Homo sapiens: one gene and its partners. The protein of the gene in region 2 purifies or fractionates together with the protein of the main gene of each other region. This does not show direct contact. Each region holds a gene or a part of one and is shown on either strand. Other genes may lie near its edges. The genes, in order: CTSA, KLHDC9, GLB1 and NT5DC2.

What was found.
Region 1: the proteins of KLHDC9 (region 2) and CTSA purify together in Homo sapiens (affinity purification with mass spectrometry; 2 studies listed by BioGRID and IntAct, with this or other methods). This does not show direct contact.
Region 3: the proteins of KLHDC9 (region 2) and GLB1 purify together in Homo sapiens (affinity purification with mass spectrometry; 2 studies listed by BioGRID and IntAct, with this or other methods). This does not show direct contact.
Region 4: the proteins of KLHDC9 (region 2) and NT5DC2 purify together in Homo sapiens (affinity purification with mass spectrometry; 2 studies listed by BioGRID and IntAct, with this or other methods). This does not show direct contact.

Annotation. Positions count from the first base shown.
Region 1 is NC_000020.11:45,894,335-45,899,349, reverse strand, and holds the end of CTSA (lysosomal protective protein isoform b preproprotein), read right to left. Parts: intron 4,701-5,015; coding exon 4,609-4,700; intron 4,528-4,608; coding exon 4,449-4,527; intron 4,357-4,448; coding exon 4,217-4,356; intron 2,386-4,216; coding exon 2,310-2,385; intron 1,634-2,309; coding exon 1,544-1,633; intron 1,346-1,543; coding exon 1,241-1,345; intron 984-1,240; coding exon 900-983; 3' UTR 530-899; downstream 1-529. Other genes in the region: PLTP (phospholipid transfer protein isoform a precursor), read left to right, coding at 287-409. UniProt on the Homo sapiens protein: Protective protein appears to be essential for both the activity of beta-galactosidase and neuraminidase, it associates with these enzymes and exerts a protective function necessary for their stability and activity.
Region 2 is NC_000001.11:161,093,725-161,100,858, reverse strand, and holds KLHDC9 (kelch domain-containing protein 9), read right to left. Parts: upstream 2,499-7,134; 5' UTR 2,324-2,498; coding exon 1,797-2,323; intron 1,514-1,796; coding exon 1,354-1,513; intron 1,281-1,353; coding exon of another isoform or gene 1,262-1,280; coding exon 1,063-1,261; intron 799-1,062; coding exon 635-798; 3' UTR 513-634; downstream 1-512. Other genes in the region: PFDN2 (prefoldin subunit 2), read left to right, coding at 1-176.
Region 3 is NC_000003.12:33,010,132-33,017,160, forward strand, and holds part of GLB1 (beta-galactosidase isoform a preproprotein), read right to left. Parts: intron 6,710-7,029; coding exon 6,578-6,709; intron 4,180-6,577; coding exon 3,925-4,179; intron 1-3,924.
Region 4 is NC_000003.12:52,523,869-52,530,868, forward strand, and holds the end of NT5DC2 (5'-nucleotidase domain-containing protein 2), read right to left. Parts: intron 5,467-7,000; coding exon 5,282-5,466; intron 5,068-5,281; coding exon 4,993-5,067; intron 4,825-4,992; coding exon 4,769-4,824; intron 4,672-4,768; coding exon 4,578-4,671; intron 4,444-4,577; coding exon 4,315-4,443; intron 4,206-4,314; coding exon 4,145-4,205; intron 4,064-4,144; coding exon 3,961-4,063; intron 3,851-3,960; coding exon 3,749-3,850; intron 3,508-3,748; coding exon 3,426-3,507; intron 1,428-3,425; coding exon 1,341-1,427; intron 1,236-1,340; coding exon 1,095-1,235; intron 1,014-1,094; coding exon 949-1,013; intron 864-948; coding exon 602-863; 3' UTR 519-601; downstream 1-518. Other genes in the region: STAB1 (stabilin-1), read left to right, coding at 3-149, 232-345, 432-488. UniProt on the Homo sapiens protein: Promotes dephosphorylation of tyrosine 3-monooxygenase TH which decreases TH catalytic activity and leads to reduced synthesis of catecholamines including dopamine, noradrenaline and adrenaline.

The DNA of each region.
Region 1 (5,015 bases), on a different chromosome or scaffold from region 2:
TTAATCTTAGACTCCTAAAAGCCGTTGCACACACTGTGACTTCTTGGAGCACTCTTCTCCCATCCCAATACCTACTAATTGTTCAGGTCTTAGCTCAGAGGTCACCTCCTCCAAGAAGCCCTCCTTGACACCCATAGTCTACACTCCTACAGCCTCATTTTAACACCTTGACATGGAATTATCCATTAGATTGAGTTCCTGAAAGACAAACACTCTGTCTCTTGATCTCTAAACTCTGGCCTCAATAACTGAATGAATAAATGAGGCTCCCCTCTCCCCAACACAGGGATTCCTCACCATCGGGGCTGATCTCCACTTTGCCAAAGGGCTGCGAGAGGTGATTGAGAAGAACCGGCCTGCTGATGTCAGGGCGTCCACTGCCCCCACACCGTCCACAGCAGCTGTCTGAGCCCTCAATCCCCAAGCTGGCAGCTGTCATTCAGGACCCCAACCCCTCTCAGCCCCTCTTTTCCCACATTCATAGCCTGTAGTGCCCCCTCTAACCCCCAGTGCCACAGAGAAGACGGGATTTGAAGCTGTACCCAATTTAATTCCATAATCAATCTATCAATTACAGTCCGTCCACCACCTCCCTGTGGGCTGTCCTGAGCTCTGTTGGGTTCCTGGGATGGAATCAGTGCATCATAAAGGGCATTCTTTAAGCAGAGAAGGGGCCAGGCCACCCCATTCAGGAACTGCTGCGGGAATAAAGTGCTAACTTGCCCCCAGGCTGTCTATGGGAGACCCTGGGCCCAGTCTGGGATGTACAGGGCTCTGGGAAGGGGGCAGTCCTGGCGGCAGAACCCGGCCTGCAGGGGCACTTTGCTTAGAAGAGGACTCTCCTAGCGGGAGAGGCTGGGAGGGGCTGCATCAGGCCGTGGAGCTGGTTGCTGTGGTCATCAGTATGGCTGCTTGTTCAGGAAGCGGGAGAACATGGTGAAGGCAGCGAGGGGCTTGTCGGTGGGAACCATGTGGCCGGCGCCCTGAGGAGCAATGTTCGTGAGCTCCTGACCCCACCATTCCCTCCTCCCCATATAACTGCTCACTCGGGGGCAATTCCTTCATCCCAAACCCTTTATTCTTCCCAGAACCCTCCCCACCCCTCTCCAAAAAAACTTGCCCATACAGGGGCCAGATGGTGACCCATGACCCAGCCTAAAAGGCAGCCAGAGGGAAAGGACGGGTGGGTCCTGCTCCTTTGCCTCCGGCCCAGTTATCTCTCAGCAGGCCCAGTCCCTACCTTGATCGTGAGAAAGGCGATGTGGGAGAACTCCTTCACGAAGCCGGCAATCTGCTCCCCGCTGTCCCCGTACTTCACTAACCAGGGCCGGCGCTGCACCTCCATCTGCCCCACCAGGAAAGACATCAGCCTACAGCAGCTGCATCCTTGCTCACAGCTACCAGCAAGACCTTAGGGCTGGGAATTCCTCCACACTTGCCCTCTGTGGGCCAGAGCCAGGCAGCCAGCTGGCCACTCCCAGGCATACCCGCTCCCAATCCTCCACAGCAGCCCCTATCCCAGGGCCAGGAATCTCTACCTTACCTTCTGGTTGAGGGAATCCACAAACCACTCATCCCCCATGAAATTGCAGGCCATGTCTACATCTCCATTATATAATAGGATCTGGTATTTCTAAAGCAGGATGGGGTAAAAATGAGGGGTGTGGAACAAGCCCAGTCCCCAGCCCTTCCCTAGTTCAAGGCCTACCCCTCAGGAAATTCAAGGGGCCAAGCTAGATAACACGAACCAGGGAATTTTCATGTTTTCTAACGACTTACTGCATGTCCAGTATTCTACTAAATGTTTTATCTGTGAAGGTAGATATCATTATTATCCCCATTTTACAGATGGAGAACCTGAGGCTCATATTTAAGAAATTTGCCCAAGATTATGTGGCTAGTACAGGGACTTGCACCCAGGCCATGTGACTCCAGAGCCCATGCTATTAACCACTGTGCTGGACAGAACCTAGTCCTAACTTGGCCCTGCCAGTGCTTCCTATATCACCTTGTGCAAGGTCTCCTCCCACCCTGGACCTCTGCTGGCCCATTTTTGGCATGAATGAAGCTCTTCTCACCCTTAAGACTCCGTGGCTGATGCAGACCCCTAGGCCTCCTATAGCAGGACAGCATGGGTGGGGACAAACCCAGGTTCAAATTCTGACCCCACCAATCACAGGACCCTGGGCTTCGCCTTTCGGAGTTTCAGCTTCCCTTGTCCTGACAGGAAGTCTCAAGGGCCCCCAGCTTGCTGTGCTACTCTGGGGTCCTAAGGCTGCTGGTGATCCAGCTGTGCTCTCCCCACTCACCTGTGAGCTAAGCAGCTTCAGATACTGGGAGTTCATGCTTCGGTAGAGACGGCGGTACTGTAAGTTTACCAGAAAGCTGCCGGGAACATACGAGCAGGCCCCAGGAAGACCAGGTCGGGGCGAAAAGTAGTCAACAGATCAGACCTTCTCTCCTATCTCCAAGCTCCAACCCAGAAGGCAGACAGCTGGGTTCCACTCCCCTTTTTGGGGGGGGGCCACCTCTCTAGGACTGACTTGGATGTTGGGCTGGATGGGCTGGGATTCAGACAGCCTCAACTCACCACCATTTAGAAAGGTACAGGGATGCTGGGCGTGGTGGCTCACGCCTGTAATCCTAGCACTTTGGGAGACCGAGGTGAGTGGATCACGAGGTCAGGAGTTCGAGACCAGCCTGACCAACATGGTGAAACCCCGTCTCTACTAAAAAAAAAAATACAAAAATTAGCCAGGCGTGGTGGTGCGTGCCTGTAGTCCCAGCTACTCAGAAGGCTGAGGCAGGAGAATCACTTGAACCCGGGAGGCGGAGGTTGCAGTGAGCCAAGATCGCAGCACTGCACTCCAGCCTGAGTGACAGCAAGACTCCATCTCAAAAAAAAAAAGAAAAAGAAATGTACAAGGGACGCATTTTGGTTGTTACGAGGACTGGGATGCATCTGGCATTTAGTGTCTAGGGGCCAGCAGGTGTGGGAGTCACAACATACAACAGGGTAGAGTGTGAGCACTGACCAATCAAAATGGACCTGAGCAGCCCTGCTGGGCCCAGTGTTACCCTTTTACTTGGGGTTGTGGGGGGGGGTGGCCACAGGAGACTGGACATGGAAGTTAACAGTTTGTTATTGTTGTTTGAGATGGAGTTTCACTTTTGTTGCCCAGGCTGGAGTGCAGTAGCATGATCTCAGCTCACTGCAACCTCTGCCTCCTGGGTTCAAGCGATTCTCCTCCCTCAGCCTCCTGAATAGCTGGGATTACAGGTGCCCAACAGCACACCTGGCTAATTGTTGTATTTTTAGTAGAGATGGGGTTTCTTCATGTTGGCCAGGCTGGTCTCGAACTCCTGACCTCAGGTGATTCCCCCACCTCAGCCTCCAAAAGTGCTAGGATTACAGGCGTGAACCACTGCGCCCAGTCGGAAGTAATAGTTATTAACCAATGTGATGGCCGGGTGTGGGGACCCTCGCCTGTAATCCCAGCACTTTGGGAGGCCAAGGAGGGAGGATTGCTTGAGACCAAGAGTTTGAGACCAACCTGGACAACATAGTGAGACCCTGTCTCTACAAAAAAATTTTTTAAAAATTAGCCAGGAATGGTGGCATGTGCCTGTAGACCCAGCTACTCAGTAGACTAAGGTGGGAGGATCGCTTGAGCCTAGGAGGTTGAGGCTGTAGTGAACTGTGAAACAACAACCAATGTGGCTACGTAATGAAATGGGGCTGGGCGGGGTGGCTCATGCCTGTAATCCCAGTACTTTGGGAGGCTGAAATGGGCAGATCACTTGAGCCCCAGAGTTCAAAACCAGCCTGAGCAATGTGGTAAAACACCATCTGTACAAAAAATACAAAAACTTGTTGGGGGTGGTGGTGCGTCTGTAGTCCCAGCTACTGGGGAGGTGGGAGGATTGCTTGAGCCCATGAGTTTGAGGCTGCAGTGAGCTATGATCACACCACTGCACTCCAGCCTAGGTGACAGAGTGAGACCTTGTCTCAAACAAAAAAATTTTAAATTTAAAAAAGATAAAAGAATGAATTGGCTGACTCTCAATCCACTGAGGGGTCAGGGATGGATGTTAAACATCCTCTACAGCTCATCTCATTGAGAAACTCTACACAGAAGATCCCTGAGAAACCTGCCGATGCCCACAAGCCCCAGCAACCCACCACCCCAAGTCACAGGTGGCCACGGAACCTCACTTGCACATGTCCCATTGTGGCAGCTGCTCCGGGATGTTGAGGGCCTTCCGCACGTACGGGTTGTTGAGGTAGGTGGAAGCAGCTGTTGTGTTGGTGCAGGGGGGGTCCATGCGCACTTTATCCCCTGAGCGCAGCAGTGCCTGGAAGGCACAGACAGTGGGTCAGGGCCTCTGCTTCCCTGCCCCTCCCCCTGCCCCCACCTCACCAGGAGGAAGCCCACGCCCTCGCACACCTGATGCCACATCCGCTTGAGTGGCAGGCGAGTGAAGATGTTGCCCAAATCCTGGACCACAACAGTGTCCTTCTCATACCTGCAATGTGAGGTGGGGGAATGGGTGTGGAGCCTCCAGATGGGGCTGGGGTTGGCTCCAGGGGCACCCAGCAGCACCTACCTAAAATGGCTGGGCACCCCTCCAGCACACGGGGCATAGAGATTGTAGATGTTGAGGCCAGAGTTGCCCACGATGCGGGCCACTTCCTGAAGCTGCAATGATACACCAAGCCACCATGCTTTACAGATCCCCAGCCTCTCCACGACCCCACCAAGTTGTCCCAAGATTTACTGCTCTTGGATTTCACCTCTTCACCCACTTTTTTTCACAGGTAGGGAAACTGAGGCTCAGTGGCAGGAATCTTCCCAGACCTGGGTCCAAATCCTAGCATCACTGCCTCCCAACACTGTGACTTCAGACAGTGATTTCAAAATTCATAGCCCTCAGTTTCCTTATCTGGAAAATGTGGGTAGTATGATCTCATTTGAGGGGGAATCTTGAAGCTTAAATAATCTACATAGACACAG
Region 2 (7,134 bases):
TACAGAAGATCATTGAGACACTGACACAGCAGCTTCAGGCAAAGGGAAAAGAACTAAATGAATTCCGGGAAAAGCACAACATTCGTCTCATGGGAGAAGATGAGAAGCCAGCAGCCAAGGAAAACTCAGAAGGGGCTGGGGCTAAGGCCAGCTCAGCTGGAGTGTTGGTCTCCTAGGGACCAAGGCCTTTGCATTTTTTTCTACCCTGACTCCCACTTCTAATTTCTCTTTATTGTTATTATTATTATTTTCTCTGCTATTGTAATATTTTTTTGTTAATTAAATGTTTTGGTCAGAATCTTAGCTGTAGCCTGAAGTTTTCTCCCACTTGGGGGTGGAAATTGTTTTGAGACACGGAACAGCATATGATGTGTGGTTTTTGTTTCCATCAGGTTAATGACTCATAATATGAGAGTAGGACCCATATTTATTTTATCCTTTCCTTGCAAATAAAGGTATGTCCACTTATTTACTGCCCTTCCCCCTCCCCCCAAAAATTTCAGAGACAAATCTTGAGTCTCAGATTGAAATTTAATAAGCATTTGAAGTGAAGCAGATAGCTCTGGTGATAACGCTTTATAGGTTTGCAACAAAGCAAAACAAAACGAGGCTTAGTGATGTGTCTTGGCACTATTTAGATAAAGTCCAGGATGCAAACCTGTGGACTGGCTGTCCTGCCATCCTCACCAAAACCCCCAACCAGGTAAAGCTGATCATTCCAAAGGCAGGTGCGATGGCCCATGCGTTTCATCCCACGATCTGCACAGGGGAAGTGGAACCACAAAGGAGGAGATGTGCCTGTTGGATACGGGCAGAGGGTGGTTATTGAGGCAGTAGCACTTTGTCATTCACAGAATTCAACATGACCAAGGGCTTGCCCATTGTTTTTCTGCTCACTTGATTTGTAGGCCTCTTCAAATGCTTAATATTCTGTGTACTCCTTTAACTCCTGTCAACTAATTTTTCCTCCTCCCTACCCCATCACTCCATCCTCTTTCTGTAGTCTTCAGGTTCCCCCATCTTCCCACCTTCCCCCCCTTCAGCCATTAGTCTGGCTCTCACGAGTATCATAGATGTAGAGATCATTGCAGATGGTGTCTCTAGCTCTGGTCAGAGTTTCTCCACCAAACAGCACAGCAAAGGGCCCGACCACAGAACATGAGTGATGCCGTAGTCCATGGGGCCCCTTCTGGGACCCCTGCCCACTGCTCACAAGCCTTGCAAGCTGTTCCATCAAATGAGGAGCAACAGGTGGTTCCTCCTTGGGGAGAAAGAAAGGACTGTCCGAAGAGACCTGGGCATCACAATTTTAGCCTCTTCCCATCCTAAACAAGATGTGTGAGGAGCTAATACCTTAATTTTCCCATGACTCCAATGCCCAGCTACTTCTGGTTCAGCTAAGTTGCAACCTCCAAAGAGCAATAGCTGATGACCTGGATGGGGTCCAGGAGTTTGGAGCAGGGCCGCACAGTGACCTGAGCGTGAGGCTGTGTGGCAGCCTTCTTGCTTGTAGCTGTGGACATGCAGAAATTCAGGGCTGAGTGGGTTTTCTGGAAAATGTAAGTGCCACCGCCCTTGCCAAGGATGGATGGAGAAGAGGCATGGGGCAGTGCGGTAGGTGGGATAAGAGGGAGGGTAATACTGTAGAGAGCTCAGCTAGCTTAAACATGGTAGGTTCCCCTGGAAGGAGGGTGCTAGAGTGAGGAGGTGGATAAATTGCCTGAGAAATCTGCTTAGGCTTTTGTTTTTCGAGAGTGTGGATGAGAGTGAAAGGTTTTGGGCGGAGGGTGCCATACCAATAGGTGCGGGCGCTGGGGTCCAGCCTTAATGTGTAGATGCTTCCATAGCGTCGCTGAGTGTGGATACCGCCCTCCCGGCCAGCCACCTGCAGCTCTCGGTCAGAGATTCGGGTGCAGGTGTGACTACTGAGGCCGGCGGGGGGGCAGTCACCAGGGGTCCCTGTCCACGCCTCCCACACACCGCGCTCTGTGTCCAGTGCGGTCACTGTGGCCAAGCGGCGAGACCCGTCCCAGCCGCCCACCACGCAGAGCCAACGCCCGTCCACGGGTGCCGCGTCGTGGTGACTGCGCGGGGGGCTGCCCCGGGCTCCCAATCGTACGGCCTGGCCCCTAGCTGGGTCGAAAACCACCGTATCGCTGCTGGGCTCTCTCGCTCCTCCTGCTAGGAGACCACCTACGAGATAGAACCGTCCCCGCAGTTCGGTGCATGAATGGAAAGCTCTAGCCAAAAGCGCGTCCCGCGCCACTGGCCTCCAGGCCCAGCCTGAGCCTGCGGCCCGACCCGGGGGCACGGCCACCGCCATGGGCCCCGGGGAGAGGGAGGGCGGTGGGGTCTGCGGCTTGGAACGAGCCCCTACATGGCAGGCCAGGCACCTCGCCTTCCGCGGGCTTCCCCGGGAACCTCCCCCTACCGGACGCCAGCCGGGGTTCCCACCTCAAGTCCCGGCTTTCTCTCCGTGGTCGCCCAGCAACCACTGCAGCGGCTGCAGCGCGACCGCTGCAAACCGAAGGTCGCAAAGCAGCAGTTACCGTGGAGACAGGACACCTGGGTGGCTATCGGGAACCGTATGGTGGTGCCACCAAGGCTACGGGAGCTGTATCAGGTCAATAAAAATCCTGCAAGATTGTTAACCTCAGAAAGTCGGAGGACAGTCGGGTCCTTAGAATAAACCCCTGTGATCTCCGCTGTGAACTGATTTGCGATTTTGACATTTGAGGTGCAGGTGCTGCTCCACTAGGGCCGGGAGGGATCATTTGGCTTCAGGGTTTCTTACTCGGGCTAACCACCCCAGGGATGAGCAAGGAAGGAGAAGCAAAAGTCAGAGGGTGGGGAAGTGAAAGTGGACTGACCACTGGCCCGAGAGACAGGAGACCTGGGTTCTAGTCCCAACTATGCCCCTGACCCTCAAAGGCATTGTTTCTCTCTAGGCCTTCTCAGTTTTGTCATTCATCAAATAGGCTGTTCGTTTATTCCCAAAGGCTTGAAGGTCCCGATTGATTGGGTGGGAGAGTCCTTTCAGCTCTGGCCACTAGAGGGTAGCAGAACCCAGTCTCTCAGGTGACACACACACACACACACACACACACACACACACACACACAGAGAGAGAGAGAGAGAGAGAGAGAGAGAGAGAGAGAGAGAGAGAGAGATAGAGAGAGAGAGAGAACCCACGCAGCCTTAGAAGGGTGAAGTGGGGGAAGAGTGAGAAAATGAGAAAAACAGACTCCTACCCTTCCCTGATATCTTTTATTTAAGCCAGTTTCCAGATATTAACTCTGTCCCCCAGGACCAAGTGATAACTGAAGAGGCCCAGATGCAAGCTTTCTGCTTTCAGCTGAAGGAGGAAATACAGACAGAATTTTCCTCCCAACACAGCTGGTGTGGGGCAAAAACAGGATCTGTGTCCTCTGGGACTGGGCTGTAAGTGGGAATGATGACTGCTACTTGTGGCCTTTGGTTTCTACACATCACCTTGCTCCCCATCATACCTGAGATACTGAGACCATAGAAAGTGGCCAGGCAGGAGAATCACTTGAGGCCAGGAGTTCAGGAGTTCAAGACCAGCCTGGGTAACATAGTGAGACCCTGGCGAAAGAAAGAAAGAAAAAAAGAAAAGAAATAAAGAAAGGAAGAAAGGAGACAGTGGCCAGGGCTGCAGTGAGGATGGGCATGTAATGCAGGGTCTGATAGCACAGCAGGGCTTTCCCCTCCTCTTCCCAACTCTTGGTCCTCAGAGAACACAGCATGGGGATGGCATGGGCAGGAAAGGCACAGTTACAGAGATTGGAAGATTACCAGGACCTGTTCCCCACCTGTACCTTAAAGCCAAGATTCAACAATAGCTTTGAAAGTCTCTGCCCTCCCAACTATAGCTTTCCCTGAGTATGACAGGCAGTATTCTCAGTTTTCCAAAATCATGGTAAGAATCTCTAAAAAATCACTAACTTTTACTGTCCTTGGCTGAAATTTAAAAGTCAGTCTTTTCCCTCAGGCTTCTTTCTCACTGGCTAACCTCCCAACAGCTGGATTCAGATCTGTCATACTCCTAGGATTAGGCAAGGGCTTGCCTCAGGGGTGGGGCAATTTTGCTTAAACCTTATTGGCCTATATGTCCATTTTAGGCTCTTGCTTTTGCCTAAGTCTTGGCTGTTCTGTTAGACTTACTTTCTGCCTTTCCTGGATAGAAATGGGAACTCCCCACCCCACGGGCCTTTCCAGCTCCTCTCTCCCAGCTTCCTCTCTGACTCTGAGTCCTTAGCAGTAGGCATCTTAGTTAGACATAGAGCTTGAACCTCACATACTCCTTGGCTGTACCCTCTCCAGTTCTGTACCTAGATGCTTCCAGTTCCTCCTAATAGCTGGAAGCATCTGTCCATTGCTTTGCCATCCCAAGACCCTGGGAGAGGAACTGCCTAGGACTCCTACCTTCTTAGGTTAGTTTGAACCAAATCCATATTTTGGAGGAGGGAGAAAAGAAGCCAGAAAGAGAGAAACAGAGAGAGGAAGAAAGCAAACCAGCCAACCTGGACTTGTATGACACATGCTTCACACCGCAGGACAGCATCTGCAGTGGTCTATAATGACCTTGTCAATGATACACAAACTGAAAGGGCATTAAGATAAGTGAAAGGGGGAACTGAGAGAAAATTGTGAGAGACAGGGAAAAGGGCAGCCAGGGCTGTGAACCTGCTTTCACCTGCTAATAATATCCAGGGACAACCTCTGTCCAGAAATGAGAGCAGGGACTGGATATCCTGAAAGTCTCGTAATCCTGATGTGATCCCCTGATGTTGGCTTTGTCTCAGTTGGCCAAGAGTCTATATGATCTCTAGCAAGCAAGCACCCAGCTTCCTACCTAGCCTTAGATGTCTATCCTAGCCCCAAATCTACGCCCCCTTGCCTCAAACTTTCACAAAGCTCTTACTCTATCTTCTCCCTTCCTTAACCCCATTTTCTGACCCTGGAACCATCTCTGGTTCTTAGCATTATTCGGTACATACAGAAAACCAACAATTGGGCTGGGTGTGGTGGCTCACGCCTATAATCCCAACACTTTGGGAAGCCAAGGTGGGTGGATCACTTGAGGCCAGGAGTTCAAGACCAGCCTGGCCAACATGGTGAAACCCCATCTCTACTAAAAATAAAAAATAAAAAATTCACCAGCCGTGGTGGTGCATGCCTGTAGTCCCAGCTACTCTGGAGGCTGAGGCAAGAGAATCGCTTGAACCTGGGAGGCTGAGGTTGCAGTGAGCCGCGATTGTGCCATTGCACTCCAGCCTGGGTGACTGAGAGAGAAAGAGAAAGAGAGAGAGAAAGAAAAGAAAGAGAGAGAGAAAGAAAAGAGAGAGCGAGAAAGAAAAGAGAGAGAGAAAGAAAAGAGAGCAAGAAAGAAAAGAGAGAGAGAGAAAGAAAAGAGAGAGAAAGACAGAAAGACAGAAGGAAGGAAGGAAAGAAAGAAAGAAGAAAGAAAGAAAGAAGGAAGGAAGGAAGGAAAGAAAGAAGGAAAGAAAGAAAGAAAGACCAACAATTGCACCAAACGGTCTTAATCGCACTCAAGACTCCCACAGTTCCCTCTGCCCATGTCTCCCAGGCTGTCCCCATCCTTCAGGCCCTTTCTTTGACTCTTCTTCTGCTGTACCCTGACCCTTCTCTATTTCTCACACAGCTCATTCTAGCTGCTTGACTTCCTGGCCCTATGCCATCCTGGCCCCATTTCTGACTCTTTGCTCTCAGCTCAGCCAGAATAAAGACAGGGACAAAAGGACAGAGAAATGACCAGGCAAAGAGACTGCATGAGGTCAGATCTTGAGAGCTCCTTTGACTGAATGTGAGCTAGAAGGAGATTGAGAGAAAGGTGAAATTGTAAGCAGGCTTTAGGGTGGAGGGGAGTGGTAATCAGCCAAGGTAGAGAATGATGGAGAGGTGGAATAAGGATGGGGAGAAGCTTATGTTGTTGAGGGAGTAGGCAATGTTGAGTAGGAAAGTATCATTGGGTCATTGCTGAGCGGTGGGAATTGAGGGCAGAAGACAGAAGGACTTTGAGTAATCATGGCATCCAGAAATTTCTCTTCGGGTCCTTCTGTCTCTGTTTCAGATTTTGTCTTGGCCACTTCAGCCACTTTGTCTCTTTGAATTCTCCCCCTTCAATAACTCGCGCGCGGGCGCGCGCGCGCATGTGTGTGTGTGTGTGTGTGTGTCTCCAATACAATCCCTGACTTACAATGGTTCAACCTACAATTTTTCTTTTTCTTTTTCTTTTTTTTTTTTTGAGACGGAGTCCTGCTCTGTCACCAGGCTGGAGTGCAGTGGCACAATCTTGGCTCACCGCAACCTCCGCCTCCTGGGTTCAAGTGATTCTCCTGCCTCAGCCTCCTGAGTAGCTGGGACTATAGGCACGCACCACCAAGCCCAGCTAATTTTTTGAGTTTTTAGTAGAGACGGGGTTTCACCATGTTGGCCAGGATGGTCTCGATCTCTTGACCTCATGATCCGCCCACCTCAGCCTCCCAAAGTGCTGGGATTACAGGTGTGAGCCACCATGCCCAACCCAACTTATAATTTTTAAACTACAGTGATGCAAAAATGATAGCGTGTTCGGTAGGACCCATACTTGAATTTTAAATTTTGATATTTTCTAGGGCTAGCGACTGGTATATTAAATGCATTTTCAACTTATATGTTCAGTTTGCAATGGGCTTATCAGGACATAACCCCATCATAAAAGTCAAGGAGCATTTGTATATTTTTCTGTCTTTAAGTTTCCATTTTTCTCACTGTGCCTTGAGATCTGTCTCTCACTGTTTCGACTTTTGTGTTTTTCTCTCTGGGTTACTGCCCTTTTTTTCCTGCTGACCAGAGCCAGCCATCTGACTTTCCTGCAAGGAGCTTTAGAACTTTCCAGAAGTGGCCAGACTTCTTCCCTTTGGCTGCTTTCTAGAACTATAGCACCAGTTTGGGGTCCCCGGGCACAGTCATAAGGTCTCAATTTTTGATGAAGACCTGAGTGAGCTTCAATACATAGGGCCTTTTCAGGGAGTAGAATTTCCCCACAGTGGGGTCTTAGTGTCAAAATAAAGATATTTGTCCCTTAACCCATACTGTGGTCCTGGATTT
Region 3 (7,029 bases), on a different chromosome or scaffold from region 2:
ATGGTAATCTATGTTTAGCCCTTGAAGAAATTGCCAAACTATGCTCCCAAATGTACCTTCTTATCTTTCTACCAGCAATGTGGGAAGATTCCCTTTCCCCCATGTCCTTTCCAACATTGCCTATTGTCCTTCTTACTATTTAGCCATCTTGGTGAGTGTGAAGTAGTATTTCATTTTGGTTTTGACTTGCATTTCCCAAATGATTAATAATGTTGAACATTAATCAGCCACTAATTTTAGTTTATAATAGACATTTTACCAAAGAAGGTATACAAATGCAAATGTACTTAGCCATCTTATGCCTTCTTTGGTAAAATGTCTATTCAAGTTCTTTGCTCCTTTTGTGACTGGGCTGTTTGTCTATTATTGAATTGTAAGAATTCTTTACATATTCTAGATATAAGTCCTTTGTTAGATATATGATTTGAAAATTATTTTTCTCCCAGTTTGTGGCTTGGATTCTCATTTTCCTAATAATGCTTTTTGAAGAACAAATATTTTTAATTCTGATAAAGTCCAATTTATCAATTTTTGTTCTTTAAGGATAATGCCTTAGGTGTCAAATCTAAGAAGTCTTTGCCTAACCCAAGATCATGGAGATTTCTCTCCCTAGAGAGAAATTTTAGAAGTTTTATAGAGGAATTAAGTTACAAATTAATAATTACAAGATATTTTTACAAACCCAAAATATGTGGAAATTAAACAGCATACTTTTTTTGTTTGTTTGTTTTTGTTTTGTTTTTGAGACACAGTCTTGCTTTGTCACCCAGGCTGGAGTGCAGTGGCATGCTCTTGGCTCACTGCAGCCTCTGCCTTCCAGGTTCGAGAGATTCTCCCACCTCAGTCTCCCAAGTAGCTGAGATTACAGTTACTCACCACCACGCCTGGCTAATTTTTGTATTTTTAGTAGAAATGGGGTTCTGCCATGTTGCCCAGGCTGGTCTTGAACTCCTGGCCTCAGGTGATCCACCCGTCTCGGCCTCCCAAAGTGCTGGGATTTACAGGCATGAGCCACCACACCCAGTAAAACATACTTTTTAATAATCTATGGTTCAAAGAAGAAATCATATGGGAAAGTAGAAAATATTTCTAACAGGATGGCTGTGGTGGCTCACACTTGTAATCCTAGCACTTTTCGAGGCCAAGTTCACATAAAAACTTACATGCAAGTGTTTACAGCAGTATTATAATAACTATAATAACTATAAGTTGGAATGAATTCAGATGTCTATCCTAGCACTTTTCGAGACTTCATTTGAGGTCAGGAGTCCGAGATCAGCCTGGCCAACATGATGAAACCCCGTCTCCAATAAAAATAAAAAAAAAACAAAAAATAAAAAATAAAATAAAAATAATAAAAAAAATTAGCCAGGAGTGGTGGTGTGTGCCTGTAGTCCCCGCTACTCTGGAGGCTGAGGCAGGAGAATTGCTTGAGCCCGGGAGGCAGAGGTTGCAGTGAGCAGAGATCACACCACTGTACTCCAGCCTAGGTGACAGAGTCCATCTCAAAAAAAAAAAAAAAAAAGAAAATATTTCAAACAGAATAATGAAAATACATTTCAATAAATTTTAAACAAGCAACACATAAATAAATAAAAGGGCATTTTATTAAACACACACCATGTACATCTTTTGCCTTCTCCTCCTCCAGCTATTAACATAATTTTCTCCTCTTCTTCAGAATTAAATTTCTCAAAAAGAACGTTTATATTCAAGTATTCCTGTTCGTATTCCTTACCCTGGTCTTCTCTATAGAATGCAATCTGGCTGGGAGATGCTTCACTCCACTGGAACAAGGCTTACTGATTCCCAAGGGCCTCCTTGCTTCTAAAACCACCGAAGTGCTTCTGTCTTTATCTTATTTGTCCTCTTGGCAGCATAAATGCTGGTTTTCTTCCTACTTGTTTGGTCTCTCCTCTTCAGTCTTCATCATGTTTTTGTCCCTCAAACATCAGCCTTACGTCCTCTTTTCTTCCCTCTGCATCCTCTCTCCTTGAGAGACCTCATCCAGCCCATGTTTTCAACAATCATCTATACAACAATGATCTTCTACATACATTCCTGGCCCAGATCCCTGCCCTGAATTCCCAGCCTATAGATCCAACAACCCTCCTCCAATACTGTCTTTCCCAGCCATTCTCCAAGGCCTCTGCTATGGTCTGAATGTTTGTGTCCACCCAAAACTCATCTGTTAAAATTCTAGCCCCCATGTGATGGGTTAGGAGGTGGGGCCCCCTCTGGGAGGTGATTAGGTCATGAAGGTGGAGCCCTCATGAATGAAATTAGTGTCCTCATAAAAGAGACCCAAGAGAGCTCCTTTGCCCCTTCAGCCATGTAAGGACATAGAGGGTGCTGTCTATGATGAAGTAGACTCTCACCAGACAGCAAATCTACTGGTGCCCTGATATTGAAGACTTCCTAGCCTCCAGAACTGTGAGAAATAAATGCCTGTTGTTTATAAGCCACCCAGCTTATGGTATTTTGTTATAGCAGCCCAAATAGACTAAGGCAGCTTTTCAAACACAATTGGTCTAAATTCAAACTCATGACCCCCCTTTCTAAGCCTAAGTCCCCTTCTGAAGCTGCTTCTTTCAGCAAATGGTACCATTCTGCCCAGCTGCAAGCTTGAGACCTGAGTCATCCGAGACATATCCCTCTCCCCAAACCCTCCTGTCCAATCCATTGTCACAATTTATTGATCCAACTTTGAACATCTCTCAAATAGTTGATGTCATCTCCATCTTAGATACCACCATCCCAGTTTCTCAATGAGACTATGGTCCAGCCTCCTAGATGGTTTCCTCGAATCCATAAGTGTCCTTACCCAAACCATTCTGCACAATGGGGTCAGAGGAGCTTGTCAGATCACAGTCTTATCATGTCACTCTCCTGCTTCAATGGCTCTCAACACAAAGACAAAACTTTAACGTGGCCTATAAGGCCCGTCCCAATCTAGTCTCTACCTACTTTCCACACTTGACATTTTCCCCTCCAACCCCATGGCCTTTGCACAAGCTGTTACCTCTCCCAGGAACATGCTTTCTTCCCTTCTTGCCATGCTAATTCTTACTCATCCTTCATATCTCTGACAAGCATCACTATCTTAGGGAAGGCTTCCCTGACCTCCCTGACAAGGCAAAATGCACCAATTATTATCAACCCCATAGCCCTTCTTAGCATCCATCACAGCTATGGTTTTACTTTTTAATATGAGTCTGCCTCCCTCACTAGACTGAAAGTTCCATGAGGGAAAGGACCATGTTTGGTTTTATTCATGATTGTATCCTTAGTGCCTGGCACACACCTTGGGCACATAGTGGCCACAGAATGAGAAGTGTGTTGAATGAGTGATGGTAAGGTGATCTAGGATGAAAACAGGACATGAGGGAGAGGAGAAGGCGGTGAAGGAAGATATGCCAATGTCTTCAAACGACAAGGCGGAGTGACTGGGAAGTGAAAATGGATGAGGAAGAGTGGAGAAGCAGACAGCTTATGATAGAAGCCCCAGGGGTGTGGGGCTGGATGCAGGTGGGGATATTCTGGGAGCACTGGGCTTGGCATAAATGAAAACCAGACAGACTCTCCCAGAGGGATCCACCTCTTTGTCTTGACTGGATTGTCCTCAAGATAAAGAGAAAGCACCCCTATAATCAGCATCAAAAGGGGTCATGATTCTTCTTGGAGGAGGCAGGATGGTGTCATTCACTACAGGAAGCCAATGACAAGGGGGCAGATGGCAGCACCTCCGAGCTGGCCACTGAATCCCTGAAGATCTGCCACAATCCGCCTCCTGAAGAATGTCCGAAACGCCACACTCAAAACCATCACACGATATCTCACTAACAGCTCTTTGTGATTCTTTCTCAGACACTAACAACCAAAAGTTTAGGCCTGAATTCAAACCCTTCCCATGAAGACACGTACCTTGGTCCATCCAGGAAACTGGATAAAGGTGTCCTGGGGCAAGTCTGGGATCCCACTGGGAATGGAGAAGTTCCCCATATAAAAGGCCGGGAGCGTGTAGTTGGATGAGTTGTGGGCCCAGGCTTCATCATGGTGGCCACTGTCACGGTGTCCCCAGCCCCCCAGGTGGCTGCACACTGCATCCTCAGTGTCCAGTGGAAAGATCGTCCAGTCCGTGAGGATATTGGAACTGAGAGTCAGGTTAGAAACCAAACCCTGCAAAGCAGAAACAGAGCACAGTGAGCTGGGGAGGGAAGGAAAAAGGCTTCACATGTCTCTGCATTCCAGGGAAATGGGAAAAGCAAACCGGGATACAAAACACCAACAGGAAATGAACCTCGAAATATGTGTACATCGAAGTAACACAGATCTAACTGGAGGTTGAATTACAAATCCTTGGGAAGAGATATATTCCCCAAACTATAGCTTTCTCCTTTGCAGGTCATGATGTCTCTATAAAAGGCCCAGAGTTTCTGCTTCTACAGAAAGGGCATTGAGTTGCTAGAGTGATTGATCCCAAATTCCCAAATTTTCAGAGTTTGGCTGAGAGCCACTGCTAGAATAGAGAAAGATGGGCACCAAGAAAGATGGGCCAGGCGCAGTGGCTCATGCCTGTAATCCCAGCACTTTGAGAGGCCAAGGCAGACAGATCACTTGAGGTTAGGAGTTCAAGACCAACCTGGCCAACATGATGAAACCCCATCTTTACTAAAAATACAAAAGTTAGCTGGGTGTGGTGGCAGGTGCCTGTAATCCCAGATACTCAGGAGGCTGAGGCATGAGAATCGCTTGAACCTGACAGGTGGAGGTTGCAGTGAGCTGAGATCGCGCCACTGTACTCCAGCCTGGGTGTCAGAGCGACACTCCATCTCAAAACAAAAAGGGATCCAGTCTCTACAAAACATACAGAAATTGGCCTAGTGTGGGGGCATGCACGTATAGTCCCAACTACTTGGGAGGCTGAGAAGGGAGGATTGCTTGAGCCCAGGAGACAGAGGTTGCAGTAAGCCGAGATTGTGCCACTGCGCTCCAGGCTGGGTGACAGCAAGATCCTGTCTCAAGATGGAATCTGGGGACAGAAGGAATGAGTGAGTGTGGGATACAAAGGAATAGTCATCCCACTGCGGATGGAGCAGGTACGACGGATGCAGCCAGGAGCAAATATTGGCCTTGAGCACCTCAGCCATCATCACAGGGAGGACCACACCCGAGTCACTCACCTGTTATGAGGGCCAAGTGAGATAACATACATGAGAATACTGTGATACCTTAAGAGGATAGGAAGGTAATGATGACGATGGCAAACCTCAGACCTGAATTCAGAAGCTGCTCTATTTGTTCCACACAGGCCAGGGCTGGGCTGTCAAGGCTCAGCTAACTTCCCCTTCCCTGGCTTGTATGTAGGGAACTTCCCCATTCCCAGTGGAATCCCAGATACCAAGTCTCGATTGCCCATTTAATAATTTGATAAATATTAACCAGGTGGCTGTATGTCAGGCTCTTTGACAGGTACTGGAGACCCAGAGACTACACAACAGAGTCGAGTCACTCCCATGGGTCAATGTGGCCTGTGAGAGCCAGGCAGGAGGCCATGAAGTCCACCCTGAGCACAAGAACTATGAGAGAGACATTTATACTGGAGGCAAAGGTGGCCTGCACACAGCTATTCCCTAAGTTCCCTAAGATGTAATTGCCTGATCTCAAGAGGGTCAGGAAATAGCCCCAGACACCTGTCCTGCCCTAGCCTGGGTGGTGCCATTGTTCCCTTGATAAGGCATTCTCTCCTCTCGCGGAGGTTGAGCTCCCTGAGAGAAGCCTGTCTCTTGACACCTTTGCATTCCCCAAAGCACCTGGTGGGGCATCTCGCGGAGTGGGAGCTTAACAAATGCTTGCTGAATAATGCTCTAAAAATATGTGTTAGAAAAACTTATTTGGGCTACACATCTGGACACAGGAGTAATCAACAGAGGTGAGAGCCAGTGCCCCAAGGGAAGAGGCTTCCTACAAGTGAAGAGTTTGCCACAGGCTAACCATCCAAACCCATAAAACAGGGCAGAACAGAGGCTCAGCTGGCTTTACTGGCAAAGGAGTGCCTTCAGTGAGCTTGGTGGTCTTTTAAAGCAGAGGAAAAGCATGGTGGAGGGGCTTCCTCCTTCTGTTTCTTTCTATAGGATGACCAAACTCAAACACAGGGGAAAGGTTCTGTTTGCAAAGCTCAACTTTCTCATCACCTACAGAGGAAAACAGCTCTTCAAAATAGCTCAACTACTTCTTTTTTTTGAGACAAGGTCTCACTTTGTCACCCAGACTAGAGTGCAGTGGCATGATCATAGGTCATTTTAATCTCCAACTTCTGGACTCAAGCAATTCTCCTGCCTCAGCCTCCTGAGTAGCTGAGACCACAGGTGCATGTCACCACACCTGGCTAAGTTTTTAATTCTTTGTAGAGGTCTCACTATTTTACCCAGGCTGGTCTTGAACTCCTGGCCTCAAGTGATCCTCCTGCCTTGGCTTCCCAAAGTGCTGAGATTACAGGTGTGAGCCACTGTACTGGGCTTCAACTTCTAAGTTGTCACCCCTTAAACCTTAGTCTTGACAGTGTGGTTTGTCCTACCTTAAAATCGTTGATATATGCACCATAGTTCACACGTCCCATGTTCTCTACCAGAAGGTCCAGAGTGGCTCCAGCTTTCCCTGTTATGTTCAGAGTGATCACATTGTTTCGCTCAAGGACTCCCTGGGGGATCTGTGGGGTTCAAGACCAAATGACAATTGAATTGAGGGTAAGAAGGTCAGCAAGGAGAGGCAGCATGCTCAGTTAATTTAGCACTCATTTTCTTGCCTTGAAGTGTCACCAGACTTGGAAAGAAATGCTTTGATAGCATCTTAGCCCAAGTTACCGGCCAGGTCGGAAAGATCCCCCAATCACTGCTTCCTAAACAGGAAAACTGCCAGACACAGCTCAGAGCATGGAACGGTCTAAGCTGGTTTCCTTTGCCCTGGAATGTTTTACTGCCAACTACTTTTAGTGGAAAATTCCAGGGGAGGATTCTTACTAGAGTAGCT
Region 4 (7,000 bases), on a different chromosome or scaffold from region 2:
AGCAGGCAGTGCTGGCGCCTGAAGCCCCACCTGTGGCGGCAGGCGTGGGGGCTGTGCTTGCCGCTGGAGCACTGCTTGGCTTGGTGGCCGGAGCTCTCTACCTCCGTGCCCGAGGCAAGCCCATGGGCTTTGGCTTCTCTGCCTTCCAGGTAGGGCTGGGTTGGGGCTGCCATGGCGGGTCCTTGGATCTCGCTTGAGGCGCCTCGCCACTCACCCCTCTGCTGCTCCCAGGCGGAAGATGATGCTGATGACGACTTCTCACCGTGGCAAGAAGGGACCAACCCCACCCTGGTCTCTGTCCCCAACCCTGTCTTTGGCAGCGACACCTTTTGTGAACCCTTCGATGTAAGCATGGAAGTGAAGAAGTGTGGCAGATGTGGGATGGGCCCAGGCCCTGGTCACACCCTCCACCACCAACCCTGCTCTTCTAGGACTCACTGCTGGAGGAGGACTTCCCTGACACCCAGAGGATCCTCACAGTCAAGTGACGAGGCTGGGGCTGAAAGCAGAAGCATGCACAGGGAGGAGACCACTTTTATTGCTTGTCTGGGTGGATGGGGCAGGAGGGGCTGAGGGCCTGTCCCAGACAATAAAGGTGCCCTCAGCGGATGTGGGCCATGTCACCAAGGAAGGGGGTCTTCATGCAGCCGGTGCAGAGCTGGTCCATCCAGAGGGGTGCCTCGTGCTGCAGCGGCGTACGGCGTGGGTAGAAGGTGAAGTCCACGCGGTAGTTGAGCAGGCAGCTGAGGGAGGCCATGTAGAGGTCAGAGAAGCGCACGAGGCGCCTTGAGAAGTAGGTGGGGTTGTGGAAGGTGCGGAAGATGCTGCCGAACTGCGCATTGAACAGGGCCTTGGTGATGCACCTGGCGAGGGAGACACGATGCGCTCAAGGGGTGGGCCTGGGGTGGTGGCTTGGCTGGGACTCCTGCCCTGGCCCCACCTGCTCACCTCAGCTCCTGCCGCTCTTTCATCCAGGCAGCCAGCACCTGCCTCGACTCCGCGTCCTGATAGGTCTGGGGACACAAAGTGTGCATTGGGTGTGTGCACCCAGGAGGCTACCGCCCTGGCCCTCCCACAGCCACCCCGGCCCACACCTGCATGCGCTCCAGCAGCCCCGTGAGCGCCTGCTGCCACGTCAGCGAGTGCATGTACTGCTCCGTGTTGATGATGCGGATCTCACGCTCCAGCTCGGGGATGATGGCGCCTGTGCGCCAGCCGTGCCGCAGCATGAGATCCTGGTGGGTGGGGCGGCAGAACTGGGCTCAGCGCCAGTTGCTGGGGGCGGGGGGGGGGGGGTTTCCTGGCCCTCCCCCACTGCAGCCCAGCCCTGCCTCCCTCACCGCCAGATCACTATAGAGGTGGTCCCCGAAGTAGAGCACGCGGGGGCCACGCCATTCCGTCAAGCGTAAGAAGTCAAACAGGTTTCCCTAGGGAGAGGAGGGGAATGCTGCTGAGCCAAGTGTGCCTTGTCCTCCACCAGTCCTCCCTCCCGAATCCCCAGAGGCAGCCCAAATCCAGCCGGATGCTGGCTGCCCTTTCCCATGGCCTTGCTGCTCCCTCCCTGGGCCCTGGTTCTTGTCACTTTCCCCTCCTACTTGGGAAGGGGATTCTGCCTGCTGCAGGAAGGTGCCCTACAGGCCTGGCATGGTGCCCATGCCTCGAGGGCCTTCTCCCTGTGGTCTCACACGTACCCCAGGTTAGGGATTAGATCCCTGTTTGTAAGGTAGAAACTGCAGGGAAGGCTCTGCAGCCCTGAAGTCCTTGCTGGCCTCCCCTGCCTCAGTGCAGAGGGACCTGGCAGACCAATGGCAGACCTCACCGGGGCCACCAGCATCTTGGAGCCAGAGAAAGATGGAGACACTCAGCCAGGCCCACATGTAACTGGGGAAGCTCACAGGGTGGCAGAAACTGAGCGGCCCAGAGCAGGAATCACCAGACTAGTGCTCAGGCAGCAGCCACCAGGGTAGGAGTCCACACCCCAAAAGCGAGAATAATTGACACCCAGCAAGCACAGTTCTTGAAGCAGTCTGTGCATTCCAAGCCTCAGAAGTGGAAGCGCTGGGGGAAACAGGTGGTGTGGGAGAAGCCAATTGCTGAACTAAGTTCAAGTGGAGGGGCAGAGGCCCAGGCAGGCCCCAGACCAAGAGAAAGAGTCTCAAAGGGCAGGAGACTGACAGACTCCTAGTGACTGACAGGCAGGATCCAACACACAGTGGAAAGCAGCTTCAGAATACTGGGCATAAAGAACTGCCTGAAAGCTGCCAGGGAAGAAAGTCATGTGTTTCTCACAAAGGTGTATGACCCTCTTTAGCTGAGGCTGGATGCCAAGGCAGGGGAGAGCAGCGCCCTCAGAGCTGAAGGGACGCACCTGGGCCCGAGGGCTGTGGAGAGTTTGGGTGCGGAAGGGTGGGAGGCAGAGAAGTGGGCAGGGCTGAGAGGGTGGGGGTGTTTCCTGCAGGCCAGGCTGGGCATTGGCCACCTCCACATTGCTCCCCTGGCCAGCTGCTGGCTTCCCCCTCCTCCAGCCCCAAGGCCTTTAGAACCCCTAGCCTGAAGAAGCCCAGCTCAGCCAGGATTTCCGCATTCCAGCCAGGGCTAAACCTTAATCACTGCCTGCTCATAGACACCTAATCCCACCTCAACACCAGTCCCTCTCATTTTCCTAGCCAGGTAGGAAGGAGGAGTTTCTCTAGATCACCCAGTGAGCTGCCCCCAACCAGACTTGTTCTGGCTGCAGCAGAGTGCTCAACCCCAAGAAATGACACCATTCATCAGGCATTTCACGATCTCTGACCATTCTTGTTTTTTGAAGACAGGGTCTTGCATTGTTGCCCAGGCTAAAGTGCAGTGGTGTGATCACAGCTCACCACAGCCTCGAACTCCTGGGCTCAAGTGATCCTCCCACCTCAGCCTCTGGAGTAGCTGGGACCACAGGTGCATGCTACCATGCCCCGCTAATTTTTTCTATTTTTAGTAGAGATGGGGTTTCGCCATGTTGGCCAGGCTGGTCTCAAACTCCTGAGCTCAACAAACTATCCTGCAGCCTCAGCCTCCCAAACTGCTGGGATTATAGGCATGAGCCACGGTGCCTGGCGCACTGGCCATTCTGAGAGCTTTATACCACAGCTTCAGTAGAGAGTATTACACCTCTTTTGCAGACAAGGGAAGCAAGGCACAGAGGTCAGGCAACCAGGCCAGGCTCCCTCTGCTGAGTAGTGGAGTTAGGAATTCAAAGCCAGGCTGCTTGACCCAGAGGTCAAGCTCTCGAGGCCACCCAGACCTGCTCCCTGCCAGCCATTGCCTGTGTGAGGCTGCTCAGGGCCAAGGAGCTGTGCTGCTTCTTCAGAGGCTGCCTCTGCACAGCCTGGGGCCCTAGCTAGGCCCCATGCCCCCACCACATGCTGCTCTCCCCAGATGGCCCTTACCTGCCGATAGATCTTGCCCTTTTCCAAGCGGGTGATCCGGTCCCACTGAAGTGAGCCCTTCTCATCGAGTTTTCTGAAAGGCCTGGGGTGCAGGTAAAGGGCATGACTTCCAGTCTGTGGCTGGGCCACGGGCCGGGCAACCCCCATCCCTCCTCCGTAAAGGCCCACCTGCTCAAGTGGACCCATGCCAGCAAGGGGGTGTTCTCACCCCAAGCACATTGGGCAGTGGGCAAGGGCCAGGTTGGCCTCCTGCTTCAGTCCCCTCATTGGGGTGGGGCCTCTATTCCCCTTCCCTGGCCCTGCAACCCCCACCATGCCCATACTTGCGCCGGTCAGTGAAGAAGCTGGGCTTGTCTGCCTGGACAATGACCACATCGAAGAGCTGGCGCCAATCGGGACCCACCATGTGCCGCATCCCCTTGTCTCTGTGTGGAGGAGTTTCAGGTGGCAAGTAGTCTGAGGGCGGCTCCGTGCCTGCCCTCCCCACCCAGAGCCCTGGCCCTGCTGTCCCTCCATCCACAGGGGCTGGACTCACACGAAGCTGAAAGGACTGTTGGTGATGAGGAACAGCTGTTTCCCATGGGCCACCAGGCGGCTCAGGACAGCAAACGTCTCATCCCCTCTCAGGATGTACTTCTCTAATGGGGCAGATGAGTCTGTGAGGGTCAGTCCTGCCACCTGCTCAGGCCGGCCACGGCAGGGCTTCTGTCCACACTTACCCATGTCCTGCTCGATCCACTGGTACATGAGGCCCTTCACATGCACGTCTCGGATGGCGTCCTGGGGGCAGTGGAGGACAATGAGGGTACAGCAGGGCCCAGGTGGGGCTGTCCCACTGTGGCTGGACTTAGTCTTTCCTGCCATCCGAGGGCAGGCCCAGCATCCTCACCGTCACGTCCTTGTAGAGATGTGCTTGGTCAAACTCCAGGCTGTGGCCCAGAAAGTAGTCCACCACACAGGACAGCAGAGCCATCTCCGGTAGCGAGAAGATGTCCATGAACTGCTTAATGGAGGGACCCTGGGGAGGGGGCCATTGTCTCAGACACCCTTTGGGACCCCAACCCCTTCAGTGCTGGAGACGAGGGCCCCAAATCTGCCTTGGGACATGGGCACATGTCCATGGGGCAGGCTGGCTGCTGGGGTATGGAGTACCTTGCCATAGAAGCCACTCATCTGGTATAGTGGGATGTGCTGGGTACCCCCATACAGCTCAATCACCTCCTCGTCTGGCACAGGCTGGAGGCCCCTGAGCAGGCCCAAGATACCATCAGTCCAAGGTAGTCCTGAGCCAGAACAGCAGTGTAGGGTGGGGCGGGGGTGGGGTTGGGGCAGAGCCGACTGACCTGTAGGCTGTCCCCAGCTGCACGTAGTGGAAGGCGTCAATCTTCATCAGAAGGCTCTGGGGGCGCCAGGGAGGCAGGACGGATGGTGAGGAGGCAGTTTCACCGTGGCCCCAAGCCAGCCTCTTTCAGCCCATGCCAGAACCCCAGCTGGATGGGACGGAGGGGTAATGACCATACCAAGAGGAGGCCAAGGAGGGAGCCCCTATACAGGTCCAGCCACTCACCTTCTGAATGTCATAGTGGAGGCCACGGATGGCAAAGCTGGGGTTGTAGTCATACTTCCGAATCCCTTCTGGGTACTGCCGGGGGAAAGGGGCCAGGCCTAAGCCAATAGCCCTGCCAGACCTGCTGGCTGGGTGGCCACCCCAGGGGGTCAATCCAGCCACCTGCCCAGGGCAGCTGCCAGGCAAGAGGGCCAGGGGAGCCCCACGACTCAGCCCTGAGCTTAGGCCAAGGTGGGTCTGGCCAGCCTCCAAGCCCTGGGTTTGTTGGTGGCAAGGACCCCCGTCTCACCTTGTAGTGCTCGATCAGGATGTCACGGGCGGTACTGAAGATCTCGGGGTGCAGTGCGTCTGCATACTGGGCCAGGGTGTAGTCGTAGTCAAAGCCGTAGACCTCAACGTCACGCAGGCTGATCTCGTTGTTGGCGTAGATGGCTGCTGGGTTCAGGAGACTGCAGACCTCGGGGGGCAGGAGGTCTAGAGGAAGGAGATGCAGGGAGGCAGTGATGGGGATGATGATCCCTGCAGCAGCTATGGCTCCTGAGCACTCTGTGGGGACCTAGCCCTGTGAGCCTCAGAAACGCCCCACAATGGCACCTCTTATTCCAGTGCTGGAGATGGTCAAACAGGCCCAGAGAGAAGTCACTTGCCCAGGGTCACGCAGTTAGGGTAAGGCAGAGCCCCTGGCTGGAGCTCCTCCTCATGGTTACACCTGCCTACATTACACTATCTCCTATAGCCCACCAGGTATACTGAGCCCGTGACTACTCCAGGCCCTCACCACTAAGCCCCATCAGACACAAGGCCATGCTAGAACCCTGGCAGCAGTCACTCAACTCCTCACCGCCTAGCCCCAGAACAGCTGCTTTTGGGATGCTCTACAAAGCAAAGCCTCCCACTTGCTCAAAACCCGTGCAGGAACACCACTGTCTGGCCCCCCACAATTCAGCGCCTCCTCTGCTCCTCTCAGCTGCCCTGCCCTGCCCCCTGGCCTCATCTCTCAGCCTCCCTGGGATTATGTGTGAGGATACCATGTGGGCACTGAGGACTCCAACCCAGAGGGGCTGGCTCTGTATGGCCAGACTAGGGGGTTGAGGCCATGGATGCTGACTTTTCTACCTTGCCCAGAGCTGGGACTGGGGCTCAGGAACATTAGTGGGAGGGGGAGCCCCTCTGCCGATCGGGCTGCCAGCTCTGTGCACTTCCCACAGCCCAGGGAGAGTGAGGCCCCTCTAATCAGATTTCAGCTGCCCGCAAGCCCATATAATGACATTTGCTGGCTCTAGCCAGGGAACATTGCTAATTACGACAGTCAGGACGTGATGTCAGGTTCTGGGCCATTATCCAGGTTGCTCCTTCTGGGGATGTGGTCGTGGCCACCCCAAGTCCCTGGCTGCTCCCAGGAGGCTGCAGTTGGCTTTGAGGCCCACAGCAGGGTGCTGAGCAGAGCACTGTGTGGCATGGGCTCTGGGGTCCCAAGGAGGCAGATGGGGCTGAGAGGCCCCATGTTACCTGCCCTGGTTTCCCTATGTGTACAATGGAGAAAGTGGAAGGGAAAGGAAAGGGAAGGAGATGTGCTAGGAAGGCCACATGCAATGAGGTCAGCCAGACAAGACCAGGCCCTCCCTCTCATGGCTATGACTTCAGGAATGTCACCTCACCTCTTGGGCCTGTTTCCTAGTTTCTAAAAGGGTACAAAAAATTGTACCAAGTGGGGCATGGTGGCACACACCTACAGTCCCTGCTACTCAGGAGGCTGAGGCGAGAGGATTGCTTGAAACCCAGTAGTTCAAGACTGGTCTAAGCCATATAGCGATACCCTGTCTCTGTGAAAACATTTTTAAAAAGAAAAAAAAAATTGTACCAACCTACAGAATTACTAAGACTGTCATATGGAAGGTGCTGCTCTGTGCAGCAATCTCACTCTGCACCTGCACATATGCAGGATTAAATGGGTGATATGTTTCCTGAGCCTATGAGCATCCTGTCCCCAATTTCCCAGTGTCCCTCC